Linked DNA regions of Homo sapiens. The protein of the gene in region 1 interacts with the protein of each later gene in a biochemical or structural test. Each region holds a gene or a part of one and is shown in the gene's direction. Other genes may lie near its edges.

The links.
Region 2: the proteins of KRT8 (region 1) and RCHY1 form a complex in vitro, tested with the Homo sapiens proteins (one study listed by BioGRID).
Region 3: the proteins of KRT8 (region 1) and PPL form a complex in vitro, tested with the Homo sapiens proteins (one study listed by BioGRID).
Region 4: the proteins of KRT8 (region 1) and TCHP form a complex in vitro, tested with the Homo sapiens proteins (one study listed by BioGRID).

The regions. Positions count from the first base shown.
Region 1 is NC_000012.12:52,894,890-52,902,095, reverse strand, and holds the end of KRT8 (keratin, type II cytoskeletal 8), read left to right. Parts: intron 1-23; coding exon 24-232; intron 233-876; coding exon 877-937; intron 938-1,412; coding exon 1,413-1,508; intron 1,509-2,030; coding exon 2,031-2,321; intron 2,322-3,111; exon of another isoform or gene 3,112-3,196; coding exon 3,197-3,417; intron 3,418-3,576; coding exon 3,577-3,635; intron 3,636-4,477; coding exon 4,478-4,668; 3' UTR 4,669-4,905; downstream 4,906-7,206. UniProt on the Homo sapiens protein: Together with KRT19, helps to link the contractile apparatus to dystrophin at the costameres of striated muscle.
Region 2 is NC_000004.12:75,502,173-75,510,185, reverse strand, and holds part of RCHY1 (RING finger and CHY zinc finger domain-containing protein 1), read left to right. Parts: intron 1-889; coding exon 890-1,009; intron 1,010-1,250; coding exon 1,251-1,366; intron 1,367-8,013. UniProt on the Homo sapiens protein: E3 ubiquitin-protein ligase that mediates ubiquitination of target proteins, including p53/TP53, TP73, HDAC1 and CDKN1B. Mediates ubiquitination and degradation of p53/TP53; preferentially acts on tetrameric p53/TP53.
Region 3 is NC_000016.10:4,925,441-4,933,453, reverse strand, and holds part of PPL (periplakin), read left to right. Parts: intron 1-7,525; exon of another isoform or gene 7,526-7,778; intron 7,779-8,013. UniProt on the Homo sapiens protein: Component of the cornified envelope of keratinocytes. May link the cornified envelope to desmosomes and intermediate filaments. May act as a localization signal in PKB/AKT-mediated signaling.
Region 4 is NC_000012.12:109,906,774-109,912,353, forward strand, and holds part of TCHP (trichoplein keratin filament-binding protein), read left to right. Parts: intron 1-752; coding exon 753-926; intron 927-1,812; coding exon 1,813-1,925; intron 1,926-2,097; coding exon 2,098-2,164; intron 2,165-4,289; coding exon 4,290-4,462; intron 4,463-5,580. UniProt on the Homo sapiens protein: Tumor suppressor which has the ability to inhibit cell growth and be pro-apoptotic during cell stress. Inhibits cell growth in bladder and prostate cancer cells by a down-regulation of HSPB1 by inhibiting its phosphorylation.

The DNA.
Region 1 (7,206 bases):
TTGCTCTCTCCTCCTTCGTATAGGTACGGTTCCTGGAGCAGCAGAACAAGATGCTGGAGACCAAGTGGAGCCTCCTGCAGCAGCAGAAGACGGCTCGAAGCAACATGGACAACATGTTCGAGAGCTACATCAACAACCTTAGGCGGCAGCTGGAGACTCTGGGCCAGGAGAAGCTGAAGCTGGAGGCGGAGCTTGGCAACATGCAGGGGCTGGTGGAGGACTTCAAGAACAAGTGAGCAACTCCCACCCTCCACCCAACTGAAGTCACCGTGCTCTCCTCCACCCCTTGGGACCTTGGGACTAAGTCCCCATGGCCCTCTGTTGTGGGAAGTGCAGTCCTATCTAATTAGGGTGACCACCTGATGAGGTTTGCTCGGAACAGTCTGTGTTTATGCCCAGGTTCCTAGCACAATTGTTGATAGTACCCACCCCCTTTCAATCTCAACTGTCTGGATTTGAAGAACAAATTATGTGTCAATGTTGACATGGTAAACCTGAGACGGGAGAGATAGGCAGCCTGTGGGCCTCACTTTTGTACTTAACATTCTGGCCCCTCTTTAGTCTTGACCCTTGACCTCTAGCAAACTCTAGAAAGTTCTGTCTGAGGTCTCATGTCAGGCCCTGCTGTTAACACTCTCAAGGTGTCCAATCCGATGTGTATTCATGGATTTGGAGAGAGATTTCCTGCTTCCCACGGGCTAAGGGAGGGGTGAGGGTGGAGAGGGCAGCTGGGGAAGGCAGAAGGACCAGCCTTCTCATATCCTGCATCTCTGTGAACTGAATTTTCCTGATTTTCACAACGCCCCTGTCTCCCAAAAGACCAAGGGCAACCTCCCTTTTGCCTTCATCCTCTAATTGTAAGTCTTTTCCTCACAGGTATGAGGATGAGATCAATAAGCGTACAGAGATGGAGAACGAATTTGTCCTCATCAAGAAGGTGAGGGAGTCTCCCTTCTCCTATCTGGACACTGGAGGCTGGGGCTCAGAGACTCAGACCAAGAAGCTTTCTGGGTTTTGTCCCTAAATATTCCTAAGTAGTGGGACAAACTCATTTATGTAAACATTTGGGTGCACAGAAAGGTAGACAAGGATGGAGTGGTAGGTGCATTTGGACAGAACTCTTGACATCGGTGTTGGGACATGGTTCAGAAAACAGAGCAGTAGAACTGGAGATCTGGCTCTAGAAGGCTCCCTAGAGAAGGAGGTGGAAGAGGGTGTGTTGCAGGAAGCAGAGGTGAAGGTGTGTGGGCTGAGAATGCACATGTGATGGGCAGAGGCTGGGCTGGAAGATCAATCCACAAAGTGGGCAACTAGAAAGTCCTGTGACCAGGCCATTGGGTGGACCTTGGGAGCCCCTTGGTTGGGGTTGGGTGTGGAAACCCAGCTCAGGCTCCCCTCTCCTCATCCCCCAGGATGTGGATGAAGCTTACATGAACAAGGTAGAGCTGGAGTCTCGCCTGGAAGGGCTGACCGACGAGATCAACTTCCTCAGGCAGCTATATGAAGAGGTATGTTCCTGGTCGCAGGAGAGTGAGGGTCCCCCAGCCTTGTCAGCGCCTCCACCCTGAGACTCAACCAGAGGCTCCTCCCAGCCCCCAGCACACTAATAAGACAAAGGCCCACTGCTGACTAATTACAGCCACCAATATTTGCTCGGCTAGTATTTATTGGGTCTATATGTTCTGTCCCTCGCATGAGGGATGAGTCATTACCCCATTTCACAGACGAGAAAGTGGGCTCAGAGAAGTGAAATAACGTATCCAAGGTCATCATAGGGTGTGGTGATTCAGCAGCAACTCTGTCCCCAAAGCCCTTGTTCCTAATCTTTGAGCTGCATTGGATCCCTCTGTGCACCTAGTATTGGTGCACCCAGTTCCTTTTTCAGGAACTTTGCCCTCTCCCTGACCCTGACTCCCACCTGCTCCTCTCCTCTGCTGCCCCTGTCTTATACCCTAAGAAAGGCTGTTGTGGAAAAGGGGGCTCCCTGTGTGCAGAGACAGGGCCTCACCACTTGCCCTCTTCCCCCACAGGAGATCCGGGAGCTGCAGTCCCAGATCTCGGACACATCTGTGGTGCTGTCCATGGACAACAGCCGCTCCCTGGACATGGACAGCATCATTGCTGAGGTCAAGGCACAGTACGAGGATATTGCCAACCGCAGCCGGGCTGAGGCTGAGAGCATGTACCAGATCAAGTATGAGGAGCTGCAGAGCCTGGCTGGGAAGCACGGGGATGACCTGCGGCGCACAAAGACTGAGATCTCTGAGATGAACCGGAACATCAGCCGGCTCCAGGCTGAGATTGAGGGCCTCAAAGGCCAGGTATGGGCCGGGTTGGGGGTGGGAGGGGTTCCTTGGACACATCCTGGTGAGAGGAGATAATGTAGGAAGAGTGAAGTTTCTGGGAGTCGGGGAAGGAATCCTAGACCAGGGTTCAGGAGTTGGAGGGGCAGCCACAGTTCAGCTTCTCAGTCTGCTTCTGAGAAGCAAAGGGATGCAGGGAAGGTCCCTTGGGCCAGGACAGAGGTGAAAGGGGACTGGGGCAGGTATGTTGGGGCTCGTGATACATGCTCCCAAGCCTGCTTTAATCAGTCATATGCATCAGGGTAAGGTTGAGCTCTGCTGCTTTAAGGAAAGTCTAGAACCCAGGGATCTAGTCCAGTTAGGGTAGGGGGACCTTACAGTGTCGCAGGTGAGAAGGGTGTGGAGGGGAAGCACCTGGAAACTGCTCATGTCTCCCTGATCTGCTTCCTTAGTCTCGTTTATTTATTTATTTATTTTTGAGACAGAGTCTTGCTCTGTCGCCCAGGCTGGAGTGCAGTGGCGTGATCTCGGCTCACTGCAAGCTCCGCCTCCTGGGTTCACACTATTCTCCTGACTCAGCCTCCTGAGTAGCTGGGACTACAGGCGCCCGCCACCAGGCTGGCTAATTTTTTTTGTATTTTTACTAGAGACGGGGTTTCACTGTGTTAGCCAGGATGGCCTCGATCTCCTGACCTTGTGATCTGCCCGCCTCGGCCTCCCAAAGTGCTGGGATTACAGGCATGAGCCACTGTGCCCGGCCCTTAGTCTCATTTAATTTGAGCTGGGGGGAGTCAGCCTAGGTGGTGGTGGGGAGGACCCTGAGGGAGGGTGGGAGCACGGGAGAAGAGAAGGCATACCCAACCTGACCTACTTACCTGTCCCCTACCCCACAGAGGGCTTCCCTGGAGGCCGCCATTGCAGATGCCGAGCAGCGTGGAGAGCTGGCCATTAAGGATGCCAACGCCAAGTTGTCCGAGCTGGAGGCCGCCCTGCAGCGGGCCAAGCAGGACATGGCGCGGCAGCTGCGTGAGTACCAGGAGCTGATGAACGTCAAGCTGGCCCTGGACATCGAGATCGCCACCTACAGGAAGCTGCTGGAGGGCGAGGAGAGCCGGTGGGTGTGGGTACCTCTGACCGGACCTGCTTCCCTATCCCTGGGACCTGGGGTGGGGACGGTGGGAGCCCCCTGAAGCCCCTTGGGACTTGGGGTCCTGTTGTTCTGGGCCAAGAAGGGCTAGGAGTTGGTCCTGACACCCCATTTGTCTGGGTACAGGCTGGAGTCTGGGATGCAGAACATGAGTATTCATACGAAGACCACCAGCGGCTATGCAGGTGGGTGTCCCAGGGCCCTGGGATGAGGGCGGGAGGCAGGGCCCAGGGAGGCCTCAGCTCCAGGGAGGGGGCTGTGCTCAGTCGCTCACAGTGACCTCAGCCTGAGCACTCATGTTCTTGGGAGAATCCTAGGGTGGGGAGGCACATATTCAGGACCCCAGTAATAACTTTATTACTTAGTAACTTTACTATTAGAAAGCACCCAAATAAACCATAGCTGTGTGCCAGGCACTGTGCTAAGTATCCTACAGGTTTTATGTGATTTATTTTATTTATTAATTTAATTTAATTTTTTTGAGACGAAGTCTCGCTCTGTCACCCAAGCTGGAGTGCAGTGGCGTGATCTCAGCTCACTGTAACCTCCACCTCCTGGGTTCAAGAGATTCTCCTGCCTCAGGCCTCCCAAGTAGCTGGGACTACAGGCGCATACCACCATGCCCAGCTAATTTTTGTATTTTTAGTAGAGACGGGGTTTCACTGTGTTGGGCAGGCTGGTCTCGAACTCCTGACCTTGTGATCAGTGCTGGGATTACAGGCATGAGACACTGGGCCTGGCTGTAATTTATTTTTTATATGACACCTGTAAACGTCTTCAGTTGAGGAAGCTGAGGTGCAGCTAAATGTCCAAGGTCACACAGCTATATATATGGCAGCTGTTTTCCACCCTGCTCCTGGTTTTCCCTGACAGTTCTGGAGTAGTGAACCATGCAATCACTGATCAGGCAGAGCTGGGTTAACCTCCCATCCCTGGGGCTATGTTGGGAATGAGCAGGGAGAAGGGGCATGGAGCCTGCCATGGGGTGGGCTTCTGTACTCATGTGGCTACCTCTGTCCCTCACCAGGTGGTCTGAGCTCGGCCTATGGGGGCCTCACAAGCCCCGGCCTCAGCTACAGCCTGGGCTCCAGCTTTGGCTCTGGCGCGGGCTCCAGCTCCTTCAGCCGCACCAGCTCCTCCAGGGCCGTGGTTGTGAAGAAGATCGAGACACGTGATGGGAAGCTGGTGTCTGAGTCCTCTGACGTCCTGCCCAAGTGAACAGCTGCGGCAGCCCCTCCCAGCCTACCCCTCCTGCGCTGCCCCAGAGCCTGGGAAGGAGGCCGCTATGCAGGGTAGCACTGGGAACAGGAGACCCACCTGAGGCTCAGCCCTAGCCCTCAGCCCACCTGGGGAGTTTACTACCTGGGGACCCCCCTTGCCCATGCCTCCAGCTACAAAACAATTCAATTGCTTTTTTTTTTTGGTCCAAAATAAAACCTCAGCTAGCTCTGCCAATGTCCTTGCTTGTGTGTGCATCTGATGTCCACTGGGGTGGGAGGGAGGTGGTCAGGAGGCCTCTTCTTGGGACTGAGAAGCTGGGAGGGGTCCAGGAAGCAGGGGGTGCACAGCGGGAAAGTCTGACCCCCTCAGCTGTTCCTAAAGAGGCTCCTTTATTGAAACCTGGTTGAAACCTTGCTTGTTGCCATAGATATCTACACCTGTATAATAGTCATTGACCTGTGCACAGTGCTTTCTGGTTTACAGTGTGCTTTCAAATCCCAAGGTTCATGTGATCTGTGCAGCAAGGCTCAAGAGGCAGGCAGAGCAAGTTTTTGAGGGCATTATCAGCAGAGAGCTTAGTGTGCTTCCCCTACACCTTGGCATCAGGACTATCTGCATATAAGGAAAGCCAGGCTCAGAGAAGCCAAGTAGTTGGCTCATCTAGAAACTAGCAGATTTGGCATTGGAACCCAGAGCTGTCCAGCTCTCAGGCTTGTACTCCTCCTTGGCCAGGCACATGGCCTTTCCTTGTGGCCAGACATGTCTTTTTATCACCTTCAATCTTTGCAGTCAGGGACTAAGGCATCCTGGCTTTTCCATCCCCTCAGAGGTTCAGAGTCTATTCTCAGCCATTGGGTGTGTCATACCCACAATTTCTAGAAGCTAGAAATTGTGGGACTTGGCCCTTCCCCACTCCACTCAGTCACAGCCACCACCCCCTTCCTATCCTTTTTACAAGCTGTGTGTATGATATAAAGGGCGTGTGTGCATTCTGTGTTTGCATGTGGAGGGTGTACTGTGTGTGCATGGGTGTGCACAGTGTGTGAAGGGGTCTGCCTGACTCTTGAGACAACCTCCAAGGTTCAGGGCAGGAGGGGTTAGGACACAGCTGGGTGGGGCAGTGCATCCCCACAGTCCTGCTCCACTGCCACAAGCACAGAGTTCCAGGCAGCCACCCTGTCCATTCAGCATTGGGCTAAGTGCACAAGCCCTTAGCACGACTGAGATGGGGGCATTTCCAGACTTTCTGAAACACCAATGGAGATTAGACAGAGACAGGCAGAGGGTACTGTGAGTGGGGACAGGCTGGTGCAGGAAGCTCCTGTCAGGCTCTGCTGTGCGGTCTCTCTCCAGGGCTCCTGTCTCTGGGTCCTCAGCTTCCCAGCCCCTGGGCTCCCCTCTGAGGGCCCCATCTCTGCACCTCCCTAACTACCACACAGTGCCTCCCTAGCTACCCACATCGATGGAGCTGGGCTTCCAGACTGAGCCCAGGAACCCCCCACTGCCAACCCCTCCCACTCAGCCCCAGGGCCAGGCCCAGGGATTTGCACACTGTCACCTTAGAGGATCTCACTCTTTGGTAGTACTCATTAACAGCACCATTATCCAGAGCAGGGGATCTATTTTGGCAGTGGTCCACAGTAAGAAATTCATTTTATCACCACCTGCAAATATGTATATATACATATATATAACTGAAACAAAAATTTCATGAAACAATACCAACCTTCTGCCTTCTGCTCACATGTAGCCTGGCCCTCAGCAAGAATCAGGTGGGTGGTGTAAGAGCCCAGCGCAGTCACAGCACCCAGTGAGAAGGATCTCTTACCATGGGTGCCCTAAGTCAATATTTTCAATTGTGCCCCTCCCAATCCTCCCTGAAGCCAGTCACCTGTCTTATCTGGCCCTGTTCCCAGAAGCAGGCATGCTGGGGGCAGCCGGGGGCCCCACCAGATAGTCTCCTGGGAGTTTCCACGCCCTGGGTGTTTGCTCAGGGAAAGGCAGGATGGCTCCAGGGAGAATTCCCTTTCCCTCCCTCCCTGCTTGCTCCTTCCAGGTTCTGGTGCATCTACCATGGGATCAAGGTCACCCAGCATTAAGGGGACACCATCCCTCCCATTTATCTTTCAGAAACTACACAGACAGAAGAGCTGGAAATCCAATGGTCATTTAGATGAGGAAACTTAGGAAGGACAGGAGCTGACATTTCTTAAATATCCATTTCACCTGCTTGTGTGTCATCTCATTTCAAGTCTCCAACGATCCTGTGAGGCAGGACTTAAAACCCCATTCATGGAGGTAGAATCAGTCTAAGCTTATGTAAGTGGTGTCCTGACTCTTGACAATACTAGATTTTTTTTTCTTTTTTCTTTTTCTTTCTTTCTTTCTTTCTTTCTTTCTTTCTTTCTTTCTTTCTTTCTTTCTTTCTTTCTTTCTTTCTTTCTTTCCTTTCTTTTTTTCTTTTCTTTTCTTTTCTTTTTTTTTTTTTGAGACAGAGTCTTGCTCTGTCACCCAGGCTGGAGTGCAGTGGTGCAG
Region 2 (8,013 bases), on another chromosome or scaffold:
ACAATTGTGCCCAGGAAGGAGAGGATAGATTTTGGTGGACAACTGGCAGTCTTTGCCGTGTTTGAAAACAAGGGCTGTCTCTTACATTTGTTGCATTTTGTGCAATATTAGATATGAGGTTGATGATTAATAAAAGCTAGTAAAATAAGAATATAATCTTTATTATTTTTAATGTAAATGAATTTATCTGGAAATGTCTAAGAAGAGGTTGCCTGTTTGCTGTTTAGGCTCAGAATGAAATTGGGGTGTTATATTAGTCTGTTTTCACACTGCTGATAAAGACATACCCAAGACTGGGAAGAAAAAGAGGTTTAATTGGACTTACAGTTCCACATGGCTAGGGAGGCCTGAGAATCATGGCGGGAGACAAAAGGCACTTCTTACATGGTGGTGGCAATAGAAAATGAGGAAGAAGCAAAAGTGGAAACTCCTGATAAACCCATCAGATCTCATGAGATTTTATTCATTATCACGAGAATGGCACGGGAGAGTCTGGCCCCCATGATTCAGTTACCTCCTTCTAAGTCCCTCCCACAACACGTGGGAATTCTGGGAGATACATTTCAAGTTGAGATTTGGGTGGGAACACAGCCAAAGCATATCAGGTGTTGTGGGATTAGTGTTTCAATCTAGGGATTTCCTTCATAATTCTTTTGTTTTAAAGTTGTGTTCAACTTCATACAGACGTAGTGATGTTGAAGGGAAGAATTAACATAAAATATGCCAAGAAACTAGTGAAATGTTATGTTTAGGATCAGTTTAGCAACTGATCTATTGGTTGTAATCTTTCAGTTCCATCCAGGAGGAGGAGGAAGAAATTTTCTTTTTGTATTGCACACTTAGTTTCTTTTGCTTCTTACTATATCTCTTTTTTCTCCGTGGGTGTTAGGCACCTTGCTGTGACAAGCTTTATACTTGCCGCTTGTGTCATGATAACAATGAAGATCATCAACTAGATCGCTTTAAAGTGAAGGAAGTGCAGTGCATAAACTGTGAAAAAATTCAACATGTAAGATTTTATGACATTTCTATTTTCTTTTTAAAAGCTGTATTAAGGTGGTTTGAAAAAATTTAATCAAAAGTATCATAAATAAGATTTCTTTAACTTCTAGAATAAGCAATATCTTTGGTTTAGGTGTTTCAAAACTTATAAAAATAAACTGCATATAGTTGAACATAAGTTCTAGATATTCAAATGGTAACTCAAAATGTTTAGTTTATTGCAGTTTTTAATTATGTTTCTTTTTTAGGCCCAACAGACTTGTGAAGAATGTAGCACATTGTTTGGAGAATATTATTGCGATATATGCCATTTGTTTGACAAAGATAAGAAGCAGTATCACTGTGAAAACTGTGGAATTTGTAGGTACTGTATGTAAAGTGTTCTTATCTAATTGCTTCTAATGTATATGCAATAATAGTTTTTAAAATCAACTTTATTAAGGTGTAATTTACATCTGATAAGATACATTCATTTTAAGTGTCCAATTAAGTGAGTTTTGATAAATACCGGTATCTCTTTTACTATCAGCACAATCAAGCTATAGAACATATCCATTCTAAAAAGTTTATTCATAATTTGTTAATAATTTAATTTACCCATCAATTATTGTATAACTATTTAGAATTTTACCTTTGGATTATAAAATATGTTTTATATAAAGTGTTTTATGGGCAACTGAGGTAGAGAATTGGGATAAATTTTTCCTTTGTAAAAATTAGTATTTAAAAAATTATCAAGAAATACAGGTGATTTTATAAAAATTGGAAAAAACAGAAAAGTAGAAATAATAAAAATAAAATAACCAGAGCCTAACCACAGACAAGCTACTGTTGACATGTCGGTGTATAAGGAATTATTTTCTTTCTTAAAAATCTCGAGTATTTTAGATGTATATTAAAGCATGTATGTAAAGTGTGTCTAAAGTACAGTACAGTGAATAAGCCACCGAGTTTAGGAAAGGAATGTTACCAATACTGTCAAAGCCCAAGGTGTTCCGTGTTCAGTCCTTTCTTCTTGTCCCTGCTGGAGGTAATCACTGTCTTGAATATTTTAAATCACTTTCTTGCTTTTTTTTTGTTTTTTTTGTTTTTTTAAAATATAGTTTGTTTTTAAGGAAGGATAACCAACCTACCAAAAGATAACAGAAATTATAAGCAAATGATTTTATGAATTTTAACAAATGAACATGCCTTTGTAACCACTACCCAGATCAAGAAACACAACATTCATAGCACCTTCATAGCTTCCTGTGTGCCCCCTCCAAATTAATACACTTCCCCAAAGGTAACCAGTATGCTGACTTTTGGAAGTTTTTAATGAATGGAATCATATAGTATATGCTCTTTTGTGTTTTGTTTTGTATGTTTTAAGGCCATGTCTTTCAGCGGTCACATACTTAAAATTATTACATTTTCCTGTATGATTGACCCATTTATTATTATATAATGTGTCTTTTTATCTTTAGTAATGTTTCCTGCCCTAGGCTCTACTGTATCTATATCAGCTTTCTTTCGATGAGTTTTTGCATGTATATCCTTTTCCATTTAGACATTTTTGTATACTTACATTTAAGTCATGTGTCTTGTAAAACAGCATATAGTTGAATTTTAATTTTTCAATCCAGTTTGATAAAACTGTCTTTTAATTGGAGTATATAGTTCGTTTTTTATTAAGGTAGTTAGGATATGTTCGTGTTTCAATCTACAGTTTTGGTAGTTTCTATTGCCTTAGTATTTGTCTTTTTTCCTCTCCTTTCTTGTCTTCTTTGGATTAATCTGTTGCTTTCCTATTTGCTTTTATTCTCTATAGGCTTGTTAGTTATACATTTTTCAATTATTTTCTTAGTGGTTATCCTAGAAATTATAACATACATCATTGGCTTACTAGAATAATATGTTTATCACTTCTTGGACAATATTAGGACCTTAAACACTAAGAGTCTTTATATGCTATTGTTGTTATATATTTACCGTTTCTATTGCCCTTCTTTCCTGTAGGTCTCCAGCATTATCTTTGGAGTTACTTTTCTTCTGCTTAAAGAATTGTCTTTAGTGTTTCTTTTAGTGAGGTCCTGCTGATGATACATTCTCTCAGTTTTTTTTGTCTCTGAAAAATGTCTTTTTTTTGCCTCCATTTTTGAATATTTTTGCTGGGTGTAGAATTCTAAGTTTACAGGTATTGGTTCCCCTGACCTCCCAACACTTTAAAGATATTCTGATTCCATGGTTTCTGTTTAAAAATATCATTTCTCAGGATTATTATTGCTTCTTTGAAGTTAAAATGTCTTTTATCCTCCTCTCGCTGTTTTTTAAGTCATTGGTTGTTAGTATTTTTTCCGTGTGTCCAGGTTTGATTGAGTGTAATATTTATCTGGCTTGGGGTTTGTAGCATTTGTTGAATCTGTGGCTTGATGTCTTCTGTCAATTTTGAAATATTTTTGGCCAGTTTCTCTTCAGATAATGTTTCTGTACCGTTTTCCCACCTCTTCTGAGACTCCATCCCATAGATCTTTTTACTACATCCCATGTCTCTTTTTTTTTTTCCTGTATTTCTCCTACTTTGATTTTCTTTATGCTTAAATTGGATACTTTCCACAGATTAACTTCCAGGTCTCTCTTCTGCTGCATTGAATCTGCTTTTAAGCCTACCAAGTTATCTATTTATTTAAGTTATAAAATTTATATTTTATCTTCATTCTTGTTATTTTCTAGTTGTCAGGTGAAATTCTTTACCTTTTTTTTCTTTGAATGTATTGATCACAGATGATTTAAAGGACTGTGCCTAATAACTCCAATATCTTGATTATCTATGGGTAAATTTTGTTTTCTGTTTTTTCTCCCTTGGTGTTTGGTTCTGCCTTTTGACATGCTTGATTTTTTTTTTTAGTTGATTGTTGGACATAATATGTAAAAATTTATTAAGCTCTCGATGCTATTTTTTTTTCAGAGAGAATTTAATTTTCTTTCAGAAGGCAGTTAATGTAGGGATGGATAACCTTAATCCAATTTAGCATTGATATGATTAGAGACTAATTTTTGTTTTTTTTTTTTTTGTATGTCCTGTTCTATTTTTTTTTTTTCCTCCCTTTATTCTTATGCTCCTAGGACATAGTCCCTTGGAGATCTTGACTTAAAGCTAGGGTTGTTTACCAGGCCCATCTCTTTCGTGGTGGAATCTGGACTCCAAATTTTGGCCCCCTAGCATAGGAGTACTTTCAGAGGGTTTACTTAGTTTCTTAGGCTCTTACCTGTTGCTCTCTGTTTAGTTTCTTAGCTTGTCACAGCACAGTTTAGGGTCTAAAAATCTCCCAAGGAAGAAAGAAGTAGAGACTATTGACTTTGCCTCAGTATATTTGCTTTCTCTCTGAGATCTTTGCCCTTCAAGCACTCAGTTGCTCTTTACTACTTTTAAACAGCTTGTTTGTTTTCTTTAAATTGAGTTTTTCTAGTTCTCAGTAGGAGTTTTAGTCCTATAGAAGCTATTTCGTCATTGTGGAAGTAGAAGTTACAATATATGTTTCATTTTGCTTATTTTAAAAATCATATATATGGCCTTTTTTTCTTTTTGTTTTTTTACTGAGCTCTGTTTCTAAGATTCATCCTATTTGATTAACTCTAATTCATTTTCACTTTTGTAGTGTTATTTTGTATATCATATCTACACATAGCTTCTAATTACCACACACAACCAAGAAAATCATACCCTCTTTTATTGGTTGATTTATTGACATTCAAGTTATTGTTACTGCAAAGTACACATCTCATGCTACATGGTAAATATTAAACTTCATGAGATCATGGTATTTTCATATTTTAAATTTCTATACCTGGGAGTGCCTTATATCAGGGTCCCCAGTGCTTGGGGTGCGGATTCTGGTGCATGGCCTGTTAGGAACTGAGCTGCGCCCAGTGCAGGGTGAGTGGTGGGTGATCGACCATTACTGTCTGAGCTCTGCCTCCTGTCACATCAGTAGTAGCATTAGATTCTCATAGGAGCACAAACCCTATTGTGAACTGTGCATTCAAGGGATCTAGGTTGTGTACTCCTTATGAGAATCTAATACCTGATTATCTGAGGTGGAACAGTTTCATCCCGAAACCATCCCCCAACCTCGGTCCATGGAAAAATTGTCTTCCATGAAACCAGTCCCTGGTGCCAGAAAGGTTGGTGACCGCTGCCGTATATACAGTAGGTGCACAGTAATGTGTAGGCAGTATATCTTTGGCAGTGTTTTCAGTATTATGATAACCCTGAATATACTAGAAAAATTAGTCATCGCCATTTACCATTTAAGTATAATGGATTCTTTTTACTTTAAAAAATATTTTAAAGCCCTTTTGTGAATAATGTGCAGACGAAAGAATAAAGGATAGTGAAAATTAACTTCACTGGAAATTTTACTAAGAATTTGAACACTGCAAACCCAAATTTTAATTCCATGTATTCCAAGTTGAAGATAATGTGTGCTCAAATATGTCAGTGTCCTCTGTAACTGCTTTTGACCCTTGAACAATGTTGGGGGTTAAGGGCACCAAGTGCCAGCTCAGTTGAAAATCTGAGTATAACTTTCAACTCCCCACAACTTAACTACTAATAGCCTGCTACTGACTGGAAGTCTTATCAATAACACAAATAGCCAATTAATACATATTTTGTATGTTATATGTATTATATACTATATTCTTAGGATAAACTAGAGAAAAATATTAGGACAATCATAAGGAGAAAATATGTTAACTGTTCATTAAGTGGAAATGGATCATCATAAAGGTCTTCATCCTTCTTCATGTTGAGTAGGCTGAAAAGAGGGAGGAAGAAGAGAGATTGGCTTTGCTATCTCAGGGGTGGCAGAGGTAGAAGAAAATCTGCTTATAAGTAGACCTGTGTACTTCAAATTTGTGTTGTTCAAGGGGTCAACTGTATTTACTTGTCAGTTGTCATGCTTGAATCTGGCACATGTGCATCGTGTAAATAACTGATACTAGATTTTAGATACATTTCTAATAGGTTCTAGCTTGTAATTACTTCTGGTTCTTCTTGTATTTGTATCATCAAAATGCAATACTAATTCCAGATCTCAAATACACCACTGATAAGTCTTGGCTTATCATTACTTCTGTACACATATTACCAAATTCAAATACATTTGAGAACTTTGAGAGTCGTAATTTGGTTGAAGAAAAGACGACCTTTCTTCATAATTGCATGCTCTGTAATTGCAAAACATTTTAATGAATTTTTTTCATTTTTACATCATCTGTTTCCTTTTAAGTACTTTAACATATGTACCTGCCTTCAACGTTTGTCCACTTATGAACCATATTAAGTAAATTTTGGTGTACAAACGTCATAAAAGATGGAAGAATATTATCACACATTCTTTAAGGATGTCCAGGTTTTTGTCATGAAATAATGTAATTTGAAGTCCTTCCTAATAAATGACTAAGTGAGGATACCATATTTTCTTTTTTTTTTTAATTAATTTTTTTTTGAGATGGAGTCCCACTCTGTCACCCAGGCTGGAGTGCAGTGGCGTGATCTCGGCTCACTGCAACCTCTGCCTCCTGGGTTCAAGCAATTCTGCCTCAGCCTCCCTAGTAGCTGGGATTACAGGCACTCGCCACCACAGCCAGCTAATTTTTGTATTTTTAGTAGAGATGAGGTTTCACTTTGTTAGCCAGGATGGTCTTGATCTCCTGACCTCGTGATCCGCCCACCTTGGCCTCCCAAAATGCTGGAATTACAGGTGTGAGCCACTGTGCCTGGCCACCATATTTTCTTTTTGTCCTTAGAAATATATTGTTCATTCCTTTTTTTCAGTGAGACCATTCATATGGTACATCATCTGAAAATCATAATCTGATTTATTGCTTATAGGATTGATTTCACCATCATTATAATTAGAGTCCAGAGCACTGGTTCTCAACTGGGGAGAGTTTTTTCCCAGGTGATATCTGGCAATGCCTGGAGACATTTTCAGCTGTTGTAACCAGGGAGTGAGGGGTAGCAGATGCTAATGACATCTACTGGATAGAGACCAGGGATGCTACTAAACATCCTATAATGTGCAAGACGCTTTCCTGCTACAAAGTATTATCTGGTTCAAAATGTAAATATTGCCTAGGTGGAGAACCTTCAGTCTAGAATGGTTATCTGCCTTTTTGCATTTATTTTCTGCTTTGTCTAAATTTTCCTTTTTTTTTTTCTATTTGTGAAAAATGAAAAATTCTGATTTCTCAACTGTGTTCAAGGAAAACTACAAAGAAGGTATCTGCGGACTCTTTAATGCCTTCTGGAAAGATGATGTAATACTTTGAGCAGTACAGAAAGAAAACCGAAGGATTATGCATTAGTGATTATTTCATGTCATTCTTTCATGTTTCTACATGAAAGGTCTTTCTACCATGCTTTGCATTTTAGTCTTTTTGTTAGGATAGTTGGGAATGATTGATAATGTGAAAGGATTCCTAGGATGCTGAAATACCAAAATTAGGAAAAATAAGATTAAGATTCCATAATGTATCAGATTTATGAAAGGGTTCAATGGACCCATATGATAATTGCAAACAGAATAGAATGAGTTTATTCTATTAAAGAAAAAGTAGATTTTCTTCTTTAGAAGATTTCTTTTCTCTTTTTTTTTGAGACGGAGTCTCACTCTGGCGCCCAGGCTGGAGTGCAGTGGCGCGATCTTGGCTCACTGCAAGCTCTGCCTCCTGGGTTCATGCCTTTTTCCTGCCTCAGCCTCCCAAGTAACTGGGACTACAGGCGCCCGCCACTATGCCTGGCTAATTTTTTGTATTTTTAGTAGAGACGGGGTTTCACCGTGTTAGCCAGCATGGTCTCGATCTCCTGACCTCGTGATCCACCTGCCTTGGCCTCCCAAAGTGCTGGGATTACAGGTGTGAGCCACCGCAGCTGGCCTTCTTTGGAAGATTTCTAAAGAAAGAATAAATGTCACAAAATATTCATCTTTAAAACAGAATTGATTAAAAAAAGAACTAGACCTG
Region 3 (8,013 bases), on another chromosome or scaffold:
CCTCTGCTTGAAAAGAAACATAGCATCCCTGAGCCCCAGCGCTTCTGAATTTGTTGAATGGGATTAATCTTGCCCCTCCACCCAGACCTGGGTCCCAGTAAACACCCAGCAGCCTGGCCTTGCCTAGACGGGTCTTGCAACACTGGGGCCGCCCTGATGGAGCGCTCCTGCATGGGAGGCAGGACCCCAGGCTTTGAGGGGAGAGCTGGCAAAAGGGAAGCATGCTCTACTGGGAGGCACCTGGGGTACCCTGAGCCTCTTAGTGGTTAAGAACACAGTGTTTTATTAGCTGGGCATGGGGGTGGGTGCCTGTAGTCCCAGCTACTCAGGAGGCTGAAGCAGGAGAATCCCTTGAACCTGGGAGGCAGAGGTTGCAGTGAGCTGAGATTGTGCTACTGCACTCCAGCCTGGGTAAAAGAGTGAGACTCTGTCTCAAAAAGAAAAAAAAAAAAGCAAGAACACAGTGTTTGATGCTAGCTGGGCATGAGTTCAGGCCGCAGCTCTGGGTCTCTTAAGCTGTTTGATCTTGGGCAAGTCACTTAATGTCTCCGAGCCTCAGTTTCTTCATCTATGAGGTGGGGTGACAACAGCAACCCCCAGTTGGTGAGGCTGCTGGGTAGATCAAATGAGGGGATGCACATGATGGGTCCAGCCCATGACCTGGTTCAGAGCGAGTGCCCGGCAAATCATAGCAGCCAATACTAGGAAGCACACACTGCTATTAAGAGTCATGACGGGCTGGGCGCGGTAGCTCACGCCTGTAATCCCAGCACTCTGAGAGGGTAAGGCGGACGGATCACTTGAGGTCAGGAGTTCAAGACCAGCCTGGCCAACATGGTGAAATCCCATCTCTACAAAAATAAATATTAAAAATTAGCTGGGTGTGGTGGCGGAAACCTGTAATCCCAGCCAGATACTGGGGAGGCTGAGGCAGGAGAATCACTTGAACCTGGGAGGCAGAGATTGCAGTGAGCCGAGATCACACCACTGCACTCCAGCCTGGGAGACAGAGCGAGACTCCGTCTCAAAAAAAAAAAAAAAAGATTCATGACTGAGCCAAGCCCAGAGCTGACCAGGGAGCTGACTCAAGCAGACACGCACATGCACCCATCGATCAGTGTTGGTAGGAACGCCTGATCGATATGGGAGGGGACCCATGTGGGTAACAGCTTAGAGAGAGCCGCCCCGCCATTTCTCAGGCACATACTGTGAGCCCAGCAAGGCCATGGATGTTACATCTCATTCTGACAGCGGGCCTGCCATGCAGGTGGAAGTGTCCTGTTTCACAGAGGGCTCACATTCACCTTGAGCTCACAGCTCACAAATGGCTGATGCTGGAAGTCCAGGGGGGCCTGGGGAAGCAAATGAGGCCTCCCCACTCGTACCTGGATCTGGCAGCAACTGTGCCTGGGGACTGCTCCAGGCCAAATGGTAGAGTCATTGGTGTTTGTGCTCACTGCCTCTACCCCCAGCAACCCCCTCTACCTCTCTTCTCTCTAGCTTTGCCCCTCCATCCCTTGCCCAGTTCTCTTGGAAGAAGGAATGAGACTGGATAAATTCGATTCAGGACAGAGCTGAGCTTACCTGGAGGAACAGCTGCTAATGGTAGCATTTCAGGCACTGTCGGGCGGATCATGTTGGGAAAGGGTATTTTGGGGGAGAGACTCAGCTCCGTCCACACCCTTTAAGCAATACCCTAAGGGTGTGGTTGGGGGAGGCCCTGGAAGTAGGGGACCTGGGGGAGAAGCTGCTTTAGAGAGCTTCCAAAGCTCCTCGTCTGGGGAAGAGAACCCTGGCTTCCCAGCGTGCAGCTGCTCTCTGCTCCCGGCAGGTCTGTGCCGGTGTTACCGGCACCACCTTGCATCCTCCCAGCCTGCCTGCCCCGGCCTGTCTTGGGAGCGAATGGGGAAACGGCCTCTGGTCTTTGTTCTCCCGGCTTCTGATGGGTTGCTGTGCTGCAGCCTCTGGAGCCCGGGAGGCCACCTGGTGCCCCTTTCTGCCTCCGGGTGGGACAAAGCTCTCTTCAGGTCCCAGCCCTGCCCTTCCCTACCCCAACCTATTTTTTTTAAGTGTTCTTTCTTTATTCTTTAGAGACAGGCTGTCACTGTATCACCCAGATTGGAGTGCAGTGGTGCGATCATAGCTCACTGTAGCCTTGAACTGCTGGGCTCAAGCAATCCTCATGCCTCAGCCTCCCAAGAAGCTGGGACTACAGGTGTGCACACCACCGTGCCCCGCTAATTTTTAATATTTGTAGAGATGGGGTCTCACTATATTGCCCACTCTGGTCCTGAACTCCTGGGCTCAAGTGAGCCTCTTGCCTTAGCCTCCCAAAGCACTGAGATTACAGCCATGAGCCACTGCACGCAGGCCCTTTCCCTTTAAATGGATCCCCACTTCTCCCTGCCTGCAGAGCCAGCAGCCCAGCAGGCCTCCAGTCCCTCTTCACTGTTCCTTCTTCCACTCCAGCGCTCCAGTCCCTTCTCCCCATGGCAGCCAGGGAGCTCCTTACGACATAAATCTGACCATACCTCCAGCTGCTTAACCCCTGCCCCAGACCTCTCTTTGCTCTTAGGCCCTGGGAGCTGGTGCCCTGCACATCAACATGTGCCTGTCACCGTCTTGTTTCCACGCTGTGCCCGGCCACAAGGCCTTTCCCTCTGCCATTCCTGTTGCCCAGAATGCCCCTCCCACCCCTTTTCACTGCTTCTCTTCCACTTCCAGGTTTACCTTCTGTTCCTCAGGGAAGCCTTCCCCAACCTCTCTGCTGGGGTAGATCCACCTATTCTATGGACTCCCCTTCTCCTTGGTAGCTCTTATCTCAGCAGCTATGTGACTCCGGGGTAGCCACATGTGGCTGTGTGGCTGCCTTCCCCCAGACACTGGTGCTACACGCGTGCTGAATGAATGAATGAATGAGAGTAAGCCATGGGGGACTGCTAAGATTCTCCCCTTCCCTCAGCATTTCAAGAGAGCATACATTGCCCTGCGCTTCACACCCCAGGACCAGCAGAGCCCGGAGGTGGGGATGAATGGGGCAGGGGTTCCAGCTAGTGGAAAGGAGTGCGAGGCCTGAGCAGGCTGCCCCCTGCCCTGTCCCCATCCAGTCACCTCCTGCGTGCAGGACGGTGAGCAGAGAGTTGGCTGAGTACACAGCTGGCAGCAATGCGGAGTGATAGTGAGATAAAGGAGGGCCCTGACCCAGCCACACAGGCTTCTTCAGGAGAGGTCCTCCACGCCGAACCCGGGGATCAGTTGGAGATGAGAGGATAAAGAGAGTGCAGTTGACAGAAGGTGACGGGGATGTGTGTATCCACGACCCGAAAAGGCATGACAGTGAGCAAGCAAAGCAAGTTGATGAAGGATGCAAAGATGATGCTTGCATATATACATTTTTAGAAACATACACAGAGCAATTCCACTTACTCTTCCTGAATGCAGATGTGTCTATGTATTGGAAAGCTTAGGGAACCAGGTGCAGTGGTTCGCACTTGTCCTAGCGCTTTGGGAGGCCAAGGCGGGAGGATGACTTGAGGCCAGGAGTTGAAGACGAGCCTGGGCAACATAGTGAGACCCTATTTCTACCAAAAAAAAAAAAAAATTAGCTGGGCATGGTGGTGCATGCCTCTAGTCTTAGCTACTCAGGAGGCTGAGAGGGGAGGATCCCTGAGTCCAGGAATTCAAGGCTGCAGTGAGCTGTGATTGTGCCACTGCACTCCAGCCTGGGCAACAGAGCAAGACCCTGTCTCTAAATAAATAAAATAAAACAGGCTTAGGAAGAACCAGTAAATCTAAAATTCTGCTACTCCTAAGAAGGGGCCTGAAAGGATAATGAACAATAACATTTCTCTTCCTTTTTAGAAAAATCTGCAGCAAAGATGGTACTGTGAAAACATCAACCAAACCGTGGTGGTGGGGACATGCGTGGCTGATTCTTTTCAGTACTTTTCTGCATGTCTGAGTAGATCACGAGTTTTCCAGTTTAGGTGAAGGGTGGAGTAGAGAAGGCGAGCTGGCGTGGGGCACAGCTGGCGGGGGGCACAGCGTGGGAAGAGCCTGCAGGCAAGCCCTGAGTCCTGGGTCTCAGAGTCCAGTCCATAGCAAAATAAAAGGTCTGGGAGAGGAAGAAGAGGGACCTCAGGAAGCAAAGGGGGCCCAGTCCTGGAAGGCAAGCAGGCAGGTTCTGGATGGGGAGACAAAAATGGAGAGTCTCTGCAAGGAAGTGAGAGGGGAGGGGACCAGAACTGGGAAAGGTATGAACACAGAAAGGCCTTGAGGTTGGGTGCTAGCTTAAAACCATCACCCTAAATTATGATTATTACATTGTCTGAGATAAATTCTACCCTCAGCTCTCGTTCCAAGTGAGGCTCAGAGAGTTTGAGTGACTCGCTCCAGGACTCTCGGCAGATCTTTTTTTTTTTTTTTTTTTTTTTTTTTTTTAAGGTAGAGTTTCACTTTTGTTGCCCAGGCTGGAGTGAAGTGACACAATCTCAGCTCACTGCAACCTCTCTGCCTCCTGGGTTCAAGTGATTCTCCTGCCTCAGCCTCCCAAGTAGCTGGGATTACAGGCGCCCACCACCACGCCTGGCTATATTTTGTATTTTTAGTAGAGACGGGGTTTCACCATGTTGGCCAGGCTGGTCGCAAACACCTGACCTCAGGTGATCCACCTGCCTCGGCTTCCTAAAGTGCTGGGATTACAGGCATGAGCCACTGCTCCCAGCCAAATAGAGTTTCTTATCTGAGATTGAAGCAGGGTTGAAGCCCTGTCTCTTCTTTGTGGTACAAACTTGGAATCCTTTCCCACCCTTCGATGGGAAACAAACCATCGCCATGGCGAAGGCAGAGAATTTGAAACCCTAAAAGGTATCAGCCTGAAATCCTAGCCCAGGCAGTGGGGGCAGCAAAAAATTCTGCAAGTTCTATTTCTCCCACAGCCCTGCGGCCTTGCAGGCTCAGCCAGCAGCTCTGGTGTGTTTTATCTTACAAAGCATGACAAAAACCCTCTGCCTAGGAAAGGATGGGCGGGGCGGCCAGGACACCCTGCCAGCCCTCTCAAAGTGTCTGGGTAAGAACTGCTGAGATGGCCGGGCACAGTGGCCCATGCCTGTAATCCCAACACTCTGGGAGGCCTAAGGTCAGGTGTTGGAGACCAGCCTGGCCAACATGGTGAAACCCTGTCCCTACTAAAAATACAAAATATATTTTGTGTTTGAGCCCAAGAGTTGAAGGCTGCAGTGAGTGAAGTGCAGCAATGCACTTCAGCCTGAATAACAGAGCAAGACTCTGTCTCAAAAAATGAAAAAGGAGGCTGGTGCTCTTTCTCCAGTGGTCCTGAACCCAGAGTGACATCCTGATGCCTTGGGGCACCAAAGTTGGCTTGAGCCCTGTTTATCCCCCGAGTCTAGGAATTCAAAGCTGCAGTGAGCTATGAATCCTCCCACCTCAGCCTCCTGAGCAGCCAGGACTAGAGGCATGCACAACCATGCCCAGCTAATTTTATTTATTTATTTATTTTTGGTAGAAATAGGGTCTTGCTGTGTTGCCCTGTCTTCAAGACCTGCCTTGGTGTTACCTGAAGCAGCTTGAACTTCTGTATGTTTGTAAAAGGAGCCCAAAAGCACTCACCTGACACAGAACCCTAGGCCCCATCAGAGGCCTGGAGGCAGGGCGGCCTTCCCTGGGCAGAAACAGATTAGGCCTTAAAAACAGACCTGGAATTACTACACCAGCAACCTTCTCATCTTAGGATATATTTCCACAGGATTAATAGCTGGGTGTGAGGACATTTACTGTCTAATTAGCACAGGAGTTTCTAGTAGTGAGAGAATCAGTCAATTGACCAATCAATCTGGTATTCATTGGGCACATTCTGTGTACTGCTTTCTCACAGGGCTTCCTTCCTATAGAGATCTAGGATTCTTCGGCATCTTGCTTCTTTTAAACCTTGCTGTGGTTCAGTTCCTTGTTCTCATCCCTGGCTGTACATTAGAATCACCTGAGGAGTTTTGAACAGCATGTCAGAGCCCTTTCCAAGACCAGTTAAGTCAAAATCTCCATGGACATGGGTCCAGACATCATTCTTTTGATGTGCAGCTGTTGGGAACCACATAGTTACATGGATTGCCTCGCTCCCTCTTGTCTTTGAGATATATGGACAGTGCTTTCTCTCTTCAGTATCAGTTGCCTGGTATGTCACTCTCCATTCTTTATTCTCAACCTTCCTGTATCATTTAGTTTCAAGTGTGTGTGTCTTATAAAATGGCATATAGCTTGGGGAAGGTGTGTGTTTTGTAATCTCACCGGAGAGTCTTTTATCTTTTAATAGGCAAAATTAACTCATTTACATTTATTGTAATGACTAATGTGTTTGAACCTACTCCACCATAGTGCCCTATTTATCATGCTTTCCCTTTGTTTCCATTTTGCTCTTTTCCTGGTTTTTACTGGATTGAGTATATTTTCATCATTAAAGTTAGATTATAAGGCCTAAATGGAACACAGTGGATGAAAATACCCTGGTGTAAGTGATCTAAAATCTTTGTTTTTGGTTTTTTTTTGTTTTTTTTTTTTTTGAGACAGAGTCTTGCTCTGTTGCCCAGGCTGGAGTGCAGTGGCACAATCTCAGCTCACTGCAAGTTCTGCCTCCCAGGTTCACGCCATTCTCCCGCCTCAGCCTCCCAAGTAGCTGGGACTACAGACGCCTGCCACCACGCCCGGCTATTTTTGTTTTTGTATTTATCGTAGAGATGGGGTTTCACCATGTTAGCCAGGATGGTCTCAATCTCCTGACCTCGTGATCTGCCCGCCTCGGCCTCCCAAAGTGCTGGGATTACAGGCATGAGTCACCGCGCCAAGCCAAATCTTTGTAATTATACCCATTGGGGTGTTTTTCCTTAACCTACCTACTAGCTTACAAGCTTTTGAATAGTTGGGATTTACTCATCTTTTGGGAGAGGGCCTTCTGTTGTCCTTAATTCCAGGCCTTACATAAGCTTGGGGCTCCATAAATAGGTGTGAAATTGAGCAGGTATTTTATAGCATGTGGACAATTCATATCTCTGGGGGCTTGTTAATGGTGAAGGGCCTGTTGCCAGGGCCTGTAAGGGGCAGAGAGATGACAAAGAGTTGGTGGGGTGGGGTCGAAAATTTATTTGGCAATTACTGAATATCTAGAAAGTGCCCAGTTGGGGCTGCAGCAGTTACAAGCATAGACCTCTTACTAACCTATTGACCCTGAGCAAGTGGTCTTCCTGAGGCTCAGTTTCCTCATCTGCAATGGAGCTATGATAGCACGTACCTCAACTAGTTGTTATAAGGATCAGAGATGAAACCTGCTTCCGGTGCTAGGGTAGGGTGTGGGCCAGGAAGGTGCTCACTCAATGGCAGTTGCTTCCGCCTGAAAGGTCTGTTTGGAGGGACAGGCTGGGAGTCCCTTGTGGGGACAACTTAGGAGAATGACTCAGTCTCCGTTTACCATCACTAATCCTTACCCAACCAACCACTGGGATTAATTGTACTGATGAAAATGACAACAAACTGTAAATCACTCTGCTTCCCTGGGTGGTGAATGCCTGGTCCCATCATCCTGTCTCTCCGATGTCTCTTGTCCCTTTGTCTGTAAGGGGTGGGTGTGGATTGATACTGATGTCCCCTTTGTACTGAGAAGGTGGCTTTTTGAAGCCCGTCTTCATGGGTTCGAATCTTGGCACCACCACTTCCCAGCTGTGTAAACTCGGACCAGTTTCTTAACTTCTGTGAGCCTCAGTTATCTTCACCTAGAACACAGAGACATAAGAGTTACCGAATTGCATTAAAACATCTGCTCAGTTCAACACCTATTTATTGAGCCCAGCCCTACGCAAGGTGTGGAATTAAGGTTATAGAAGGGCCCCCAAAAAGGTGAGTAAGTTCTTTTTGTCCAAAAATTTAATAGCCTAATAGGTAGGATTAAGAGCCCCAGTAACACTAAGGGTGGCTACTTCCTAGGGCTATGAGACGTCAATGGGTGAT
Region 4 (5,580 bases), about 57 Mb from region 1:
GACACATGTGAAAACTGAATGTTTGCTCTTACATATACCAGAATCCTATGTGATAATTCCCAGGGCAGAATAAGGCCAGGTGACCAGGGCTGGGAGGTGGCACATACAGCACGCGTCTTCTTTTTTTCTTTTGGAGGCAGGGTCTTGCTCTGTCACCCAGGCTGGTGTGCAGTGGCGCGACTCACAGCTCACTGCAGCCTCGACTGGCTGGGCTCAAGCAGTCCTCCTAACTCAGCCTCCCGAGTAGCTAGGACCACAGGTACGCACCACTGCGCCCAGCTAATTTTTTAATTTTTGTAGAGATGGGGTCTTGCTCTGTTGCTCAGGCTGGTCTGGCCTCCTGGCCTTAAACGATTCTCCCACCTCGGCCTCCCAAAGTGCTGGGATTACAGGCGTGGGCCACAGGGTCCAGCTAGGACGTGTGTCTTTAAGGGCATTTTTGTCTCTCTTTTGATGAAATCTGCATCGTAAACTCGCAGCCCTGGCTTACTGTAACCCCTTTGGGGTTAAGCTTCCACACCTCTGTGCACTGGTCGCTTTGCTGCCTGGTTCATTTTAGAAAGTGTTTTGTTGAGTGGGGAGGAAACCCAACATTATTGAGTCCCTCCCTGACTTGGCGTCTGAGGGCGTTGTCATTTGGGATTCAGGCAGGAACTGCCTGGGCCCTGTGGCCTGCAGAACGGCGGCAGGAAGCTAGGTTTTTGTTGGCTTACGGTACAGATATTGACCTGTGTTCATTTGGTCCCTTGTAGCAAGAAGCCACCGCAGAGCAAGAGAACAAACGGTATGAAAATGAATATGAAAGGGCCCGAAGGGAGGCGCTAGAAAGGATGAAAGCTGAAGAGGAGAGGAGGCAGCTGGAGGACAAGCTCCAGGCCGAGGCACTGCTGCAACAGATGGAGGAGCTGAAGCTGAAGGAGGTGGAGGTGGGCACAAGCCCCTCTCAGCCGTGACCTCCTCCACAGCTGCTCGTTAGCATGAGATGGGCACTTGAGAGGCTGCCCTAAGAAGAGGCCATAGCAGGGCTGAGATTCTGCAAAGGGCGGCAGCAGCCGGGTTCTCCCTCTCACATGCATCCCCATCTGCCTTGTGCTTTCCCATCCTCCTCGTTTGCGTGCCTGAATTCCAGAACATTAACGACATGGAGCCAGTAGCTGTTCTCTTAGAGGTGGTTAGCGGCCTGCTGTTGGAGAACCTTCTTAGAATCTGGATTTTCCAGTGCACTGAGTAGACACAATTTAATCGGGTGGTCTAGCACCCAGCTCTCCGTGGGGAGCAGGTTTCGGGTCTCGAGGCATAACTGAGGGTTTTTGGTCCAGGGGCTGTTTTTGGAGAACATGGCACAGTTTCCTTGAAAGAGATCTTTCTATTTAGAAGAGGGAGGCCCATGCTCCTGTGACCTCACTTCCCCTTGCCCAGGCCGTGATTTAGCAACTACATTCTTAGTGCCTACTGCTTATTCTAGGTGCTGAGCACTGGGTTGGGAACTAGAGATAGAGCCTGACCAAGGCCCACAGTCCTGACCTCCTGGTGGGGGCTGTGTCAGGTGGAGGACAGTTGTTAAGTTACAGTAAGAGTGGACCAGTACAGGATCCTGTGGGAGTTTAGAGTTCAGGGCTCAGAAAGGCCCTTGCAGGAAATGGCTCAGAGGGGATTGGATGAGTAAGTGAGTGGTGGGAGGGGATCGTGACCACCTGCATGGCCAGGCCTCTGTTGGTGTAGTGTCTGCGAAAAATGGAGATGGAGAATGAAGGAAGATCTGATTCCCACGATCTCAGATCTCAGTCGAGCTTACTCTCATCATCACCACAGGCGACCAAACTAAAGAAGGAGCAGGAGAATCTGTTGAAGCAGCGGTGGGAGCTAGAGAGGCTGGAGGAAGAGCGAAAGCAGATGGAAGCCTTCCGGCAGAAGGCAGAGCTGGGGTGTGTGTCAGAAGGGCCCCCCACTCTTCCCAGGCGGGTGGGCCTCTTGCTTTTTCAGACTTGCATTCGTGTTGCTGAAACCATAAAGGAGACAGCCTGGTCAGCAGTTATCTAACTTCTATTTAATTCTTTCTGAGATACTGAAGGCAGCCCACATTTGATTCTCCTTCAGGCGTTTCTTGAGACATCAGTATAACGCTCAACTCAGCAGACGCACACAGCAGATCCAAGAGGAGCTGGTAAGTCTGAAGAGACAGCCTGACATCTTTCTTAGCCTCTTTTGTAAAAAAGGCCTTCCATTGCTTAGTATATGAGTGCATTCTCGTAAGAATGAAGACAGTGAGGGGTTGGGGGAAAGGGGAGATGTTGGTCAAAGGATACATCCCTCGGTTGGGAGATCTGGGAGTAGTGTCCATCATGTTGATCACAGCTGATGATACCATATTGTATTCTTGAAATTTGCTAAGAGAGCCAATCTTAAGTGTTGTCACCATGAAAACCAACTGTGAGGTGATGGATATGTTAATTAGCTTGACCGTAAGGATCCTTTCCCAGTGTCTGTGTGTATACATAGATGGATAGATACAGGTATCAAAACATCAAATTATTTTTCAGTAACTGTGTTACTTAAAAAGCAGCACAACACAAAGTGAGATCACCCCCTTGACCAGCACCTGCAATCTCTGTCTATCCCCAGAGGTGCCTGTTTAGTTCACATCTTTCTAGATGTATTTACATACAGAGAGGTGGAGGTTTTTGTTTTTGTATTTAAATCTAATTGAGGTTGCATTCCTCAGCATCTTCAATTAACACTAAATCTCTTAATTTTTAAAAAGATCGGCCAGGTGCGGTGGCTCCCGCCTATAATCCCAGCACTTTGAGAGGCCAAGGCAGGCGGATCACCTGAGGTCAGGAGTTTGAGGCCAGCCTGAATGACATGGTGAAACCCCATCTCTACTAAAAATACAAAAACTAGCCGGACATGGCCGGGCGTGGCGGCTCACACCTGTAATCCCAGCACTTTGGGAGGCTGAGGCGGGCGGATCACCTGTGGTCAGGAGTTTGAGACCAGCCTGGCCAATGTGGTATAACCCTGTCTCTACTAAAAAATACAAAAATTAGCCGGGTGTGGTGGCAGGCGCCTTAATCCCAGCTACTTGGGAGGCAGAGACAGAAGAATCATTTGAACCTGGTAGGTGGAGGTTGCAATAAGCTGAGATCAAGCCGTTGCACTCAAGCCTGGGGGACAAGAGCGAGACTTCTCTCAAAACAAGAACAACAACAACAAAAACTAGCCAGGCATGGTGGTGCACACCTGTAATCCCAGATACTCGGGGGGCTGAGACAGGAGAATTGCTTGAACCCAGGAGGTGGAGGTTGCAGTGAGCCGAGATTGCACCACTGCACTCAAGCCTGGGCAACAGAGTGAGACTCTGTCTCAAAAAAACAAAAAAAGGTCATTATGCTTAGATTGAACCTGTTCTTTTCAGATAGCTCCTTTGTATTCCTAAGTACTTTGATGAGCTCCCTTGAAGTGAGGGAGACAGACCTAAGCTGCCCTTCCCATCCCTGCCCACTGCGGTCAGGGCAGGACATGGGGCACAGTGGCATGGTTGGTCCTGGTGTGCAGCTGTTTTTTATGGGGTCTTGCTCTGTTGTCCAGGCTGGATTGCAATGGCGCAATCACGGCTCACTGCAGCCTCAACCTGCCAGGCTCAAGCCATCCTCCCACCTCAGCCTCTCGAGTAGCTGGGACCATAGGTGTACATCACAATGCTTTGTAGAGATGGGGTCTTGCTACATTGCCCAGGCTGGTCTTGAACTCCTAGGCCCAAGTGATCCTCCCACCTCAGCCTCCCAAAGTGCTGGGATTGCATGCATTAGCCCCAGTGCCCAGCCTCCTGCATTATTTTAATGCTTCCATTATGTTGATGTACATAGTAGCTAATTCCCCACCAAGGAGCATTTTGGTTGTTTCTGGTTTTTCCCTCTTACCTAAAAGCTGCAACGAGTGTTTTGCACTTTTGTGTCACTGTGGTCTTTGTTCTTATAAGTGGGATTTTTGCCAAGTTGTATTCCAAAAAGTTGTGCAACCAGGTGTATCCGAGGGCATGTGGTGGTGGCTGGGTCTCCCTTTAGCCAGAGAGAAGCTCCTAGGCCTGTGCAGTGTCTGAACCACCCCTCGTGATTATCCCCAGTCTGTTCCAGAAATAATCCAGGATCTTCCCATCTCTGTCTTGAGAACACTGTGTAGAATCACGAATGTCTATGTAGAAAGGAAAGGGAGGGCAGGCCCCTCTGTAGGCTCTCATTGCAGAAGGACTCTGTCCAGCCCAGCCACGTGCCGCCCTCTGCTTCCTCTAGGAGGCAGACAGGCGGATCCTGCAGGCCCTCCTCGAGAAGGAGGACGAGAGCCAGCGCCTCCACCTGGCCAGGCGGGAGCAGGTCATGGCCGATGTGGCCTGGATGAAGCAGGCCATTGAGGAGCAGCTGCAGCTGGAGCGGGCGCGGGAGGCAGAGCTGCAGATGCTGCTGAGGTGAGTGGCAGCTGCTGACTGGGCTGGATGCTCCTGGCCTCAACTCTGATACCTTGAAATGCCCCATGGGTCACCTGTTACTGAAATATCTATTGGCTGGGCGTGGAGGCTCACACCTGTAATCCTAGCACTTTGAGAGGCCGAGGCAGGTGGATCGCTTGAGCCTAGGAATTTGAGATCAGCCTGGGCAACATGGCAAAACTCCAGGCTCTACCAAAAATACACAAATTGGCCAGGCGTGGTTGTTCATACCTGTAGTTCCAACTACTCGGGAGGCTAAGTGGGAGGATCACTTGAGCCCAGGAGGTTGGGGCTCCGATTAGCCATGACTACACCACTGCACTCCAGCCTGGGTGACAGAACGAGACTCTGTCTCAAAAAAAAAAAAAAAAAAAAAAGAAGAAGAAGAGATAGCTGTGTATGTTGTCCATCATTCCTGAGGAGCACATCTTCATAATGGACCTGGCCTCTGGGGGTGTTTCCCTTGTATTATCTGAGGTGGAAATCATTAAGGTTTAGAGTAACGATGTGTTCATCTGAAATCTTAGAGGTTTAGAAGGAAATTATTTTTTTTTTTTTGAGATAGAGTCTTGCTCTGTCACCCAGGCTGGAGTGCAGTGGCATGATCTCGGCTGACTGCAATCTCTGCCTCCTGGGTTCAAGTAATTCTCTGCCTCAGCCTCCCGAGTAGCTGGGATTACAGGCGCCCGCCACCACACCCGGCTACTTTTTGTATTTTTAGTAGAGATGGGGTTTCACCATCTTGGCCAGGCTGGTCTTGAACTCCTGACCTTGTGATCCGCCAGCGTTGGCCTCCCAAAGTGCTGGGATTACAGGCGTGAGCCACTATGCCCAGCCAGAAGGAAGTTATTATAGAGATGTTGAATGCTGCTTACATCTATAAAACTGAGTTTGGGTCCTAAAGACTAAACTAGTAGATTGAAATCATCAAATAATAAGTAGCATACATTGAGCACTTACTGCATGCTGGACACTGTGCCGGGTGCTTTACAGGCCTCATCTTACTGAGTCCTGACATCCAGCCAAGTGGTGGCTTGTGAGACCCGGAGACTTGAAGAGGTCACTCCGTCCAGGGTGAGCTATCAGTGACACAGGCA